Linked DNA regions of Homo sapiens. The protein of the gene in region 1 purifies or fractionates together with the protein of each later gene. This does not show direct contact. Each region holds a gene or a part of one and is shown in the gene's direction. Other genes may lie near its edges.

Region 1 (3,748 bases):
GCATAGAGAGACCACAGGAATTGAAGCCTTGGGCAGGGGGGTGCCCAGAATGCACCTGCCTTCTGTTTCAGGGCTCCATACTCAACCAAGGTGCCCCTCAGCCAGAACTGGACACATTGCCAGAGAACTCCAGGGGTCATCTGGTCGGCTCAGCCTCCCGGTTTCCGACAGACAGTAAGCCCACCATGACTCCCTCCATCGGGAAAGGGACCCTCAAGACTTTGATCAGACCTTTGGACTGGGGGTCCTTCCCTTCACTGTGTCTCAAGTAAGGCACTGGTCTAGAGGAAATAAGGTGAAGTCAGATGATAGCAATACCACTACCAGTGCAGTGGCACATGCCTGCACTCCCAGCTACTACGGAGGCTAAGGTGGGAGGATCACTTGAGCCCAGGAGTTTGAGACCAGCATTTATTTATTTACTAACAGACTAAATAAATAAACCAACAATACCACCAACCAGTAAATGAGAACTTCCATGCTAAACACTTCATGAGCTTATCTGGAAATTGCACCTCTCCTGATAGCAATGAGATTGGTGTGGGAATTCCATTTACTCATAAGAAGACAGCCTCGGCCGGGCTCAGTGGCTCACGCCTGTAATCCCAGTACTTTGGGAGGCGAGGTGGGTGGATCACGAGGTCAAGAGTTCAAGACCAGCCTGGCCAAAATGGTGAAACCCCGTCTCTACTAAAAATAAAAATAATTAGCCAGGGGTGATAGCGGGCGCCTGTAATCCCAGCTACTCGGGAGGCTGAGGCAGAGAACTGCTTGAATCCGGGAGGCGGAGGTTACAGTGAGCCGAGATCGTGCCGCTGCACTCCAGCCTGGGCGACAGAGCGAGACTCTGTCTGAGAAAAAAAAAAATTAAAGAAAAAAACGAAAACAGCCTCACTGGCCAGGAACTCGCCCAGGATCGCGGCCGGGCCAGTATACAGTTGAGCTGGTTCAAACCCGAGGTCTATCATGTCCTTAATGTCCTATCATGTCAGTCAGTTAGCCTGCCTTTCATATTTTCCACACTTACAGGTCACCATAGACTCACCTGAACTGTGAGAAGTAGAGGAAGGCGTCCCAGAGGAGGTGATTTTAAAGCCCAGGTTTGAGATGGGTATGCATTTCCAGGCAAGAGAGCCCGGCCGGTGCAAAAGCAAGGCTTGGCTCACAAACGGGAATGTGGGGGGTGGAGACAGGGAAGGGAGAAGTCAATCCCTGGGCAAGACCTCCTGGAGTCTCTCTAACAAATAAATACTACTTTCCATGCAGTAGACGCTGTTCTAAACACTTTACAAATATTAACTCACTTGGTCTTTCTACAACCCTACGAGGTGGTACTGTTACTATCCCTAGTGCACCGAAGTCACCCAGCGGCCGAGTGAGAACTCCAGTCCAGCTTTCCACCCGCTACTCCGCGCATCCCAGCTTGCCTTACAGCCGGGTACCGGCTCCACCATTTTGCTAGAGAAGGCCGCGGAGGCTCAGAGAGGTGCGCACACTTGCCCTGAGTCACACAGCGAATGCCCTCCGCGGTCCCAACGCAGAGAGAACGAGCCGATCGGCAGCCTGAGCGAGGCAGTGGTTAGGGGGGGCCCCGGCCCCGGCCACTCCCCTCACCCCCTCCCCGCAGAGCGCCGCCCAGGACAGGCTGGGCCCCAGGCCCCGCCCCGAGGTCCTGCCCACACACCCCTGACACACCGGCGTCGCCAGCCAATGGCCGGGGTCCTATAAACGCTACGGTCCGCGCGCTCTCTGGCAAGAGGCAAGAGGTAGCAACAGCGAGCGTGCCGGTCGCTAGTCGCGGGTCCCCGAGTGAGCACGCCAGGGAGCAGGAGACCAAACGACGGGGGTCGGAGTCAGAGTCGCAGTGGGAGTCCCCGGACCGGAGCACGAGCCTGAGCGGGAGAGCGCCGCTCGCACGCCCGTCGCCACCCGCGTACCCGGCGCAGCCAGAGCCACCAGCGCAGCGCTGCCATGGAGCCCAGCAGCAAGGTGAGTCGCGCGCCCGCGGGCCCTCCCGCCAGGAACAAAGGCGCAGACTCCTGCCCGCCTTACGCCGGCCAGGGCCTCCCCCGCCGCCCCGCTGCGCTGTGCGCCCGGGGCGGGCCGCGCGCCTCTCCGAGCCTGGCTCGGTGCGGGTCCCGAGCGCAGCGCCCCGCCGGGCCGCTGGCCGCAGTGGGGATGGGCTTCGGATCTAGCGGGCCGGAGGGCGCCGCGTGCGTAGTTGGCGCCGGCACTGAGCACATGGCCTCCTTCCGGGGGCGCCGCGCCGTCCACGCGGCCCTGCTGGGGCTGGGGACACAGGGCCCGGGAGCGGCACGTCGCACACGACCTCGGCAGCAGCAGCCCAGCCTCGGCCCCTCCCGGTGCGGGGGAGGGGGCCCGAGCGCGGCGCCCATTGGCTGAGCGGGCCGAGCCCCCGGCCCGGCCCCGGCCCCGGCGCGCGGAGGAGTCAGGAGCCGCCCCCGCTCTCCGTCTGCTCCCCTAGCCCGGACGCCCCTGTAGGTGGGCGGCCTGGTGCGAGGTGTCCCACCGGCCTCCCCTACTCCTCCCGCCAGTCCCCCGCGGTGACGAGGCCGAGGCCGAGGGGAGGGCACTTTTCTCCAGGCCCGGGCTCGAACGCGGGGGTTGAGATGAACCTCCGGTCTCGGAGGCTCTCCTTTGCGAGGAGTGCAGGCCCCAAAGCTTTGGCCCAGTCTCGCGGAGATGTGTTCCGCGGAGGCAGGTTTACCCTCGGGGCCAGGCGGGGAGCGCAACCGGAGGGGCGGGGGATCTGGGGGCCAGGAAAGAGCCCCAGGCTGAAGTCTAGCGGGAAGCGCGCACGCCACGGGGTTGGGGAATGAGGGATGGGGACTCTGGGGACCAACAACTCCCTAGATAGGATTTCTTTTTTTCTGTGTAAGTGGGCTTGTCCTGCAGGGCATCTTTGTAGCGTCCGCAGAGCGATTTCTTTTCAACAAATTGTTTGTGGAGCCCCTCCTGTGTGTAGGGCATTGTTTCTTTCCACCTCCTTTCCTCCCCCTAGTCTACAATATTTTCAAGTCCCCTTTTTCTTTTGAAACGGTCCCTCTTTATCTATTATACTTTGATTTTTCCATCTCGTCAGCTGGGAGGGCACCTGGATGGCCCTTGTTTTCTTAGCTGGGACGCGGGGGTAGCACTGAATTTTGAACTGCCCTTCCTACTGGCTGTGGAGGTGTCCCGCTGAGACTGAGCGGGGTGGCGCTGGGCCGCACCCTCGGCAGGAAAAGGCCTTCCGCCCCACACCTGTTGAATCCATAAATCCAGACGACTTGGTTCACCCTTCCTGGGCCCTCGCTTGAGGTGAGACCCCGGGGAAGTTCCCGGGGAAGGCTCCCAGGATCTTAGGTGAGCCGTAAGGGTGGGATATAACTAAACAAAAGTTCAGTGAGAAGCTCTTCTAGCTAGTGGCAAGGAAGTCCAAATATCTCAGGGCTCTTGCAGGCCACTTAACTTCTGGGCCTCAGTTTTTCCATCTGAAAGAGATCACTTTTGTCACTTCCTCTAGGGAAGGAACTATCTATTCAGCATACTATGCCAGACATGGGTATTTATTTGTTGAGTGGATAAGGGAATACTACGTGGAGACAGAAAAGTGGAGGAGAAAATCAGCAGGTTCTTAGCCAAACTACTTTAAGCGTCACGGACCTTATAGCCCTGCTGGTTACTCACTAGCCTGGAGCTCAGAGAAGGGAAATAAGTTTGCCAAAGTCACACAGCTAGTAAGTGG
Region 2 (3,748 bases), on another chromosome or scaffold:
GCTAACCTTACAATTTGATCTATTTTTTTCTAAAATGTATATTTTCATTAAAAATGTATATTCTTGGGATGTAGGAAACCCAACCTGGAGTAATTTGATTGCTATTTAAAAATAATACTTAGGGCTGGGTGCGGTGGCTCACGCCTGTAATCCTAGCACTTTGGGAGGCTGAGGTAGACGGATCATTTGAGTTCAGCAGTTCGAAACCAGCCTGGCCAACATGGTGAAACCCTGTCTCTACTAAAAATACAAAAAAATTAGCCGGGCATAGTGGTGGGCGCCTGTAATTCCAGCTACTCGGGAGGCTGAGGCAATAGAATTGCTTGAGCCCGGGAGATGGAGGTTGCAGTGAGCCAAGATCACGCCACTGCACTCCAGCCTAGGTGACAGGGTGAGTCTCCATCTCAAAAAAAAAAAAAAAAAAAAAAAAAAAAAAAGATAGGGTGTAGTTTGGAAAATGTTTGCTTTATAAGTAAGTTATAAAGCAACATTTTATGTACATATAACAAATTATAACTCATTTATAATTGCAAGTGACTTAAAGTAAATTTGGCCAAATGGGGGTAACTTATTTCCCTCATACACTTTCTGGCACAGTCGGTTTTCTTGGCCATGGTCCAGAGCTCCACAGGGCATGAAGATGTATCCTCTCTATGCTGCCTTTAAGGAGGGTTACTCATGTGGCTCACCTCTGGGTATGTCCTTGGAGGGCTCCTCTGTTTGTTTATTCCATCTGGAGTTGAGGACTACGACTCAGTATGTAAAAAAGAACCTTTACCTGTTGGATGACTAATTCTGTATTTCAAAAGCATGGTAATGACCTGCTTTTAACCTTTTCAAAAACAAAGTTATAATTTAGGGAATGTCAAGATATAAATCAAGAAATCTACATAAAGATTTCCTGATAGTGAAAAAGTTGTTTGGAGTAAGAAAACTTTCAGATAGTTTCTTTTTTCAGTTAAGTTGTTCTGATCAAATCAGCTAAAAGTACAGAGGTTTTCAAAATCAGGAGATAGTTTTAAATATAGTTCAGACATTGCCGTAATATTTCCCCCAAGATGACGACAACAGCTTTCCCTTCTGCCTAAGTGGTGCGCTCTTTGAGTCTGCTTTAACCCTTGTTTGATGATTTATAAGTGGGTTCATTGGCGCCTGCCTTGAGTTCTGGATGAATCAAGTGCATAATATACACTAGTAGAATATTCTAATTATCTGACTAATGCAAGACACGTCATCTCCCTGCCCCTTGTACAAAATGTATCCATATTGAACATTTTCAAGATCATTAATTAAGCTATTTGTGTAATGGAACTATTAATGATTTTTTTCTTGCTGTTGGCAAAATTTTAGCATTTTTGTGACCAAAAAGGTTATGTTCAATTCATATGTGTATATCTCCATTGCCATACACTATAGTGAGCAAAATAATAAGTCTCAGTTCTGTAAATAGGAAAAAAAATAAATGTATTAACTTTTTCACGTGGTTTTAGTTAATTATATGCATGTTGTGAATAGAATTCTCTCAGCTGTCCATGTCAAGAAGAGCTTTTAGGTTTTTAATTGTCTTTGAAACCCTCCTTGCGGCAGGTTATCTTTCTAATTATTTGTAATATATTTTCATAATAATACCATAAAACTTATTAGTGGGAAATGTTAATATTTGTTTATTCTGCCAAAGCCTCTTACTAAAACATAAACTAAATTTGTTTCTGAAATCAGTTGGGTGTATGATTATGAAAAGAAAGTTTTTTTGGTTTTCACTTTTTCTTCTGCTTTCAACTAGACACATTATGCAGTACGTGATACCATTGCACTGTGTACAGCAGAATCCATCGATACCCTCCGAGCAGCAATTGAATGTGAACAGCCTCAACCTGACCTCTACAAGTAAGAATCACCTGGTTTCATTTTACTTCTGTTTGTTGGCTCTGCTTCTCTTTGCTAATAGTATTGCAAAAGAAACACCCACCACTTACCAGCCTACTCTCATTTGTGTTTTTATGGGCGATTCCTTCCTTCTGGCAGAAAAATGAATCAAATCAGCCTTGTTCACTATCAACCCAGAATAAATCATTGTGGGCCCAGGTATCTTATGATTTTTCTTTTATTTTTATTACTTGTAAACATGGCCATATATCAAAATTTTAGATTATGTTACCCTGTAAGGCTGATCTATCAGACTGATGCAGTAACCAGTTAATTAAATAAAAAACAAATCCTTTTACATGCCATCTAACATTAAAGAGAGAAGGGGGATATCCTCTTCATGCAATTAGTAGGTTCTATCCTTTCTTAGAATGATCATGATGCACTAAAGATTGCAAATAGGCTCTTTCTTGTCCACAGTAAACAGTTAAGGGATGAGTACAATGGTGTAATTTCCTCTATTTTACTATACTTAGGCTCTCTGGAGTAGGTTTGCTGATTATTAGTCATTGTGGGTTGTCAAAAATTGGCGTTTGATTTCAAGACTGGTTAGTTGGGTTGATTAGAGCATAGTACTAATCAGGGTAGTGTAACAGGTTTTATCCCCACGTGGGCTAATTAATTTTATCCTATTCTACCGTTGCAGATGGCATCCATTACCCATCTTGTTAATGCATGCTGTTAGTCATAATGAGTGACCAAGTGGTTGGATGTGGTTTACACTAACACCTAGTAGTGGAAAAACAAAGTATTCATTCTACTTCAAGAACAATGACCTCCCTCCTTCTCATCACTTTTTCTTTCCTCTTTCCCTTCCTCTTCCGTATCCACCTTGATGATAGGAACTAGGGCCAAAAAGTGTAACAGTTATTCTCTACCTTCAAGGGACTCACTGTGAGCAAGAGATGAAGTAATAAAGCTAAGCTTATACAAGGTGATAATAGAGGTGAGTGTAAGGTCTATGGAATCACAGAAAAGGGAGTAACTTATTCTGCCTGAGCTAGAGAACAATATCTATACCCTTGCATATTTATAGGGAAATCCCCACATTTTTCAGTTGCTTTAAGTATGAAGGAGAATGATAGGACAGGGAAGGTTATTCCTTATTTCCTTAGACGATTGAATTCCTTGCTGTGTGACTTCGGAATACCTTGTACTTCTATCACTCTAGTGGTAAGCACTTGCGTCGTAATTGCCTATTTACTTTTATAGGGCAAGGAGCCATTTCTTTTTTGCTTATTAGTACATCTTCAGCACTTAGTATAGCACTGGCACAATTAATATATGATGAATGAATGAGCAAGCCTTCATATTTTGTGTATATGAGTAATATATATTTCTATTTTCTGGGGAAAATGCTGTTTACGATGCAGATTATAAAACACTGATGTTAACGAGGGATTAGGTATTTTTACCTTATTTTGCAGAAATACAGGTTACCATACACCTATTATATTAAGTGATTGGGTCAAGCTCAGTATTGAGATCAACTACAAGTCACAGGCTGGACATTTCCAAGATGGCATTCAAGTGTTCACTGTCTAAGACTAGTACTATGGTTTAAAGAGTGGTTTCAGGACCAGCAGCAGCAGCATTACTGGGGAACCTGAATCAGAAGCTCAGGGATGGGACCTAGAAATCTGTGGTTTAATTAGCGCTCCAGTGATTCTGATGCACACTCAAGTGTAAGAACTACTGAACTAGCGGTTTTGAAAATTGTATTTTAGCACCAGAAACCTTTCTTCACATGATCCAAGATAGAAGTTACGTTATTTATATAAACTTATAAAAGAGAGAGGTGTTGTGTGCATGCATGATGTTA
Region 3 (3,748 bases), on another chromosome or scaffold:
CAGAAGGTGCTCATTGGTGCTGTCAACATTTGGTGATTGGTTCAGTTTAGATATCACCTCCTGGTGGGAGCAGCTTCATCGGTGCCCCTCTCCTTACATCCCTCCCAGTCCCATGTCTCAACCTTTGGAATATTCATGACCCTGTATCATGACCTGCTGTCCTGCATGTCCTCTAGACCAAACTGTCAACTTCCGGGGCAGAGTCCAGGTGCCTGGCCCATAGCAGGTGCTTCAGGAAGCCTCCAGGGCCATCACTCCAGGGACCCCTAGCAATGCAGGGAAGAATAAAAGCAGCCACAGGTGGGTTTCTTCCCTAAGCATGGAAGCAGCTCAGCAACAGAGTCCTGGCGGAGGCAAGATTGCCTTCCGCATTCCAGAGGAAGTATTTGCCTTGAAACTATGTAACAAAAGTAACAGAAACATAATAGACATGCTTTCCTTTTTAAGTTTGCTGGATTCTCCTGGGATACAGTGAAGCTCCAGTGAAAACCTCTCTCCTCAGCTAGTTAAGGCCTGGAAATGGCCACTTGGGGGTTTCCCTAAGCACCCGAAACTCAGTGAGCCCCCAAGTGACCTCGTCTCCCAGTCCCCAACTCAGAGAGACCCAAAAGCTACAATCTTCTTTGACTGTATTGTCAGACCCACTTCCTCTCTCCAGCTCAACTGCCACTATCCTAGTCCTAGTCTGAATCACATGTGACAATCATGACTACAATCTTTTTTTTTTTTTTTTTTTGAGATGGACTCTCACTCTGTCGCCCAGGATGGAGTGCAGTGGCGCGATCTCGGCCCACTGCAACCTCCGCCTCGCGGGTTCAAGTGATTCTCCTGCCTCAGCCTCCCGTGTAACTGGGACTACAGGTGTGCACCACCATGCCCAGCTAATTTTTGTATTTTCAGTAGAGATGGGGTTTCACCATGTTGTGCAGGATGGTCTCGATCTCTTGACCTCATGATTCGCCCGCCTCGGGCTCCCAAAGTGCTGGGATTACAGGCGTGAGCCACAGCGCCCGGCCCGTTAGGGTGTCTTTGATGCCACGCTTCGCTCTGGGTTTTCTCCTTCCTCTTTGATTGCTCCTTGTCCGATCTCTTTTCTGGACCCTTCTCCTCCTGCCCAATGTAAGTGCTGGGTGTTCCCCTAGATGCTATCCTGAGCCCGCTTCACTCCTCGTTCTAAGGGATTACAGTCTCCTCTCACCTGTATCAGGGAGGGTCCATCTGCAGGAAAAAGACACCACTTTTGCAATTTTAAGGAAAAGGATTAAAACAGGGATTGGCCGGGTGCGGCGATGCGCGCCTGTAGTCCCACTTTTCCGGAGGCTGAGGCGGGAGGATCGCTTGAGCCCGGGGACTCGAGACCAGCCTGGCCAACATAGCTAGACCCCGTCTCTAAAGAAAAAAAAAAGACAAAAGAAGAGAACAACAACAAAAAAACCAAAATAAAAATAAAAATAAAAACGGACGGGCGAACGCGTCGGGTGGGCGTAGGGTTCCGCGAAGCCTCCCTGTCCCTCTTGTCTCGTCCTAGTCGGTCTAGCTGGGCCCCATCCCCTTTCCCACTCGGAGCGTGAGCGCCTGGAGACACGTACAGCCAACCAGTGAGAAGGAGTGGCCGCGAGTGGCATGCACTTGGTCCAATTACCTGCGGCCCTGCCGGTCGGCCCGCGCTGGGGCCAATGGAGGTGCGAGGCGGGGCTCGGGCGGGGGCAACGGTCACCTGATCTGCGGCTGTCGAGGCCGCTGAGGCAGTGGAGGCTGAGGCTATGATGGCGGCCATGGCGACGGCTCGAGTGCGGATGGGGCCGCGGTGCGCCCAGGCGCTCTGGCGCATGCCGTGGCTGCCGGTGTTTTTGTCGTTGGCGGCGGCGGCGGCGGCGGCAGCGGCGGAGCAGCAGGTCCCGCTGGTGCTGTGGTCGAGTGACCGGTGAGCGGGCCGGGGTGGGATGCGCTGTGGCGGCTGAGGCGCCCTCGCCCGACTCCGGCGCTGTCCTAGGCGAGGGGTGGTGAGGCCCGGAGGTGGACTGTTCCTTGCTCGGGGGCTCGCAGCGAATCTGCCGGCGACAGAGCTCCAGTCCACATGCGCCCCCGTCTGACAGCACCTCTTCTGTGCCCTGCCAGGGACTTGTGGGCTCCTGCGGCCGACACTCATGAAGGCCACATCACCAGCGACTTGCAGCTCTCTACCTACTTAGATCCCGCCCTGGAGCTGGGTCCCAGGAATGTGCTGCTGTTCCTGCAGGACAAGGTGCGCCCGCCCCAGCCCACTCTCCCCCGGTCATCGGGAGGCAGCCAGGCCCCCTCCCCCCATGACACTGACGCCCATTCCCCAAGGGAAGCTTCAGTGACCTTGTCCCAACTGTAGGGAGGTGTGGGTCGTCTCATGGGAAGGCCTGTAGTAAACGCTTCAGTGGGCATGGCGACAGCCTCGGAAATGGCACCAACTTGATTGGAGGAAGCGACGGACCAGAGGCCAGGTACCTACTGAGTACCAAGCACTTTGGATATCTGACTTAGTCCAATATGGTGGGTGGGGATTATCGTCCCTGTTTGTTTATAGATGAGAAGACTGAGGCTGGAGGTTAAGTGACTTGTCCAAGCTCATACAGCTAATGGGTGGCAGAGTTGTAATTCTAGCTGTGATGATCATAATAATGATAATTGGAAAATGCTCACCTGTTTAGTGCTTTGTAGGCACTTGCTACACTGATGTCATTATCTTGGTTTCACTGCCAAGGAAAGTAAGGTTTGTCGAGATACAATGTTTCACTACAGTTGATAGATACCACTTTGGTTCCAGCCTGAGTCTGCCAATCCTCCCTCCCAATTGGAGCTCATAACCCGCATGCTGTTTTCCTTCCCATCCAGGATCTTTGCCCCAAAAGCAGGCGTGGAGACCATGAGATGACTCTAAGATAGCAAGTCTCTGCTAGGCCCTCCCTTGTTGGTGGCCTGTATGGCTCATTGCCCTTGTAGTCTCCCTTGGTTGCTGTGTGGGCAGATGGTGGTGGCCTGAAGTCTTTTCAGGAGGTGGTAAATAATATAGTCAAATAGGAACTGAGTCCTAGTTCTACCATGTAACCAGCCATTGGAGGCATGAAATAATCTTTGTGAATGACAGTTTCTACATCTGTAAAATGAAGACACCACCTATATCAGAGGGCTGTGAGTGGGAAATCTTTTTTTTTTTTTTTTTTGAGACGGAGTCTCGCTCTGTTGCCCAGGCTGGAATGCAGTGGTGCAATGTCAGCTCAGCTCACTGCACCCTCCGCCTCCCGGGTTCAAGCAGTTCTCTGCCTCAGCCTCCCGAGTAGCTAGGATTACAGGGCGCCCGCCACTACACCCAGCTAATTTTTGTATTTTTTTGTATTTTTAGTAGAGATGGGGTTTCACCATGTTGGCCAGGCTGGTCTTGAACTCCTGACCTCGTGATCCACCCACCTCAGCCTCCCAAACTGCTGGGATTACAGGCGTGAGCCACCGCGCCCGGCCTGTGAGGGGGAATTCTTATAATCCACATAAAACATCTAGCCAGGATCCCCCAGTCTTAGGGCATTCACCCATTCATTCATTTGCCCAATATGGAAAGCCTACTATGTGCCAGGTATTGTGAAGTGTTGGGGATATGGCAGTGAGCAGAAGAACCCAAGCCCCCACCCTCAGGAAGCTGACATTCTTGTGAGGGTGGCCAGTAAATACTAAGTCGGTATAGGATATGATGTCAGTGTTACGGCCTTTAGGGAAGGAAGCA

What was found.
Region 2: the proteins of SLC2A1 (region 1) and ATP11C purify together in Homo sapiens (affinity purification with mass spectrometry; 2 studies listed by BioGRID and IntAct, with this or other methods). This does not show direct contact.
Region 3: the proteins of SLC2A1 (region 1) and ATP6AP1 purify together in Homo sapiens (affinity purification with mass spectrometry; 2 studies listed by BioGRID and IntAct, with this or other methods). This does not show direct contact.

Annotation. Positions count from the first base shown.
Region 1 is NC_000001.11:42,956,875-42,960,622, reverse strand, and holds the start of SLC2A1 (solute carrier family 2, facilitated glucose transporter member 1), read left to right. Parts: upstream 1-1,754; 5' UTR 1,755-1,971; coding exon 1,972-1,989; intron 1,990-3,748. UniProt on the Homo sapiens protein: Facilitative glucose transporter, which is responsible for constitutive or basal glucose uptake. Has a very broad substrate specificity; can transport a wide range of aldoses including both pentoses and hexoses.
Region 2 is NC_000023.11:139,800,375-139,804,122, reverse strand, and holds part of ATP11C (phospholipid-transporting ATPase IG), read left to right. Parts: intron 1-1,783; coding exon 1,784-1,887; intron 1,888-3,748. UniProt on the Homo sapiens protein: Catalytic component of a P4-ATPase flippase complex which catalyzes the hydrolysis of ATP coupled to the transport of aminophospholipids, phosphatidylserines (PS) and phosphatidylethanolamines (PE), from the outer to the inner leaflet of the plasma membrane.
Region 3 is NC_000023.11:154,426,930-154,430,677, forward strand, and holds the start of ATP6AP1 (V-type proton ATPase subunit S1 precursor), read left to right. Parts: upstream 1-1,747; 5' UTR 1,748-1,763; coding exon 1,764-1,924; intron 1,925-2,118; coding exon 2,119-2,245; intron 2,246-3,748. UniProt on the Homo sapiens protein: Accessory subunit of the proton-transporting vacuolar (V)-ATPase protein pump, which is required for luminal acidification of secretory vesicles.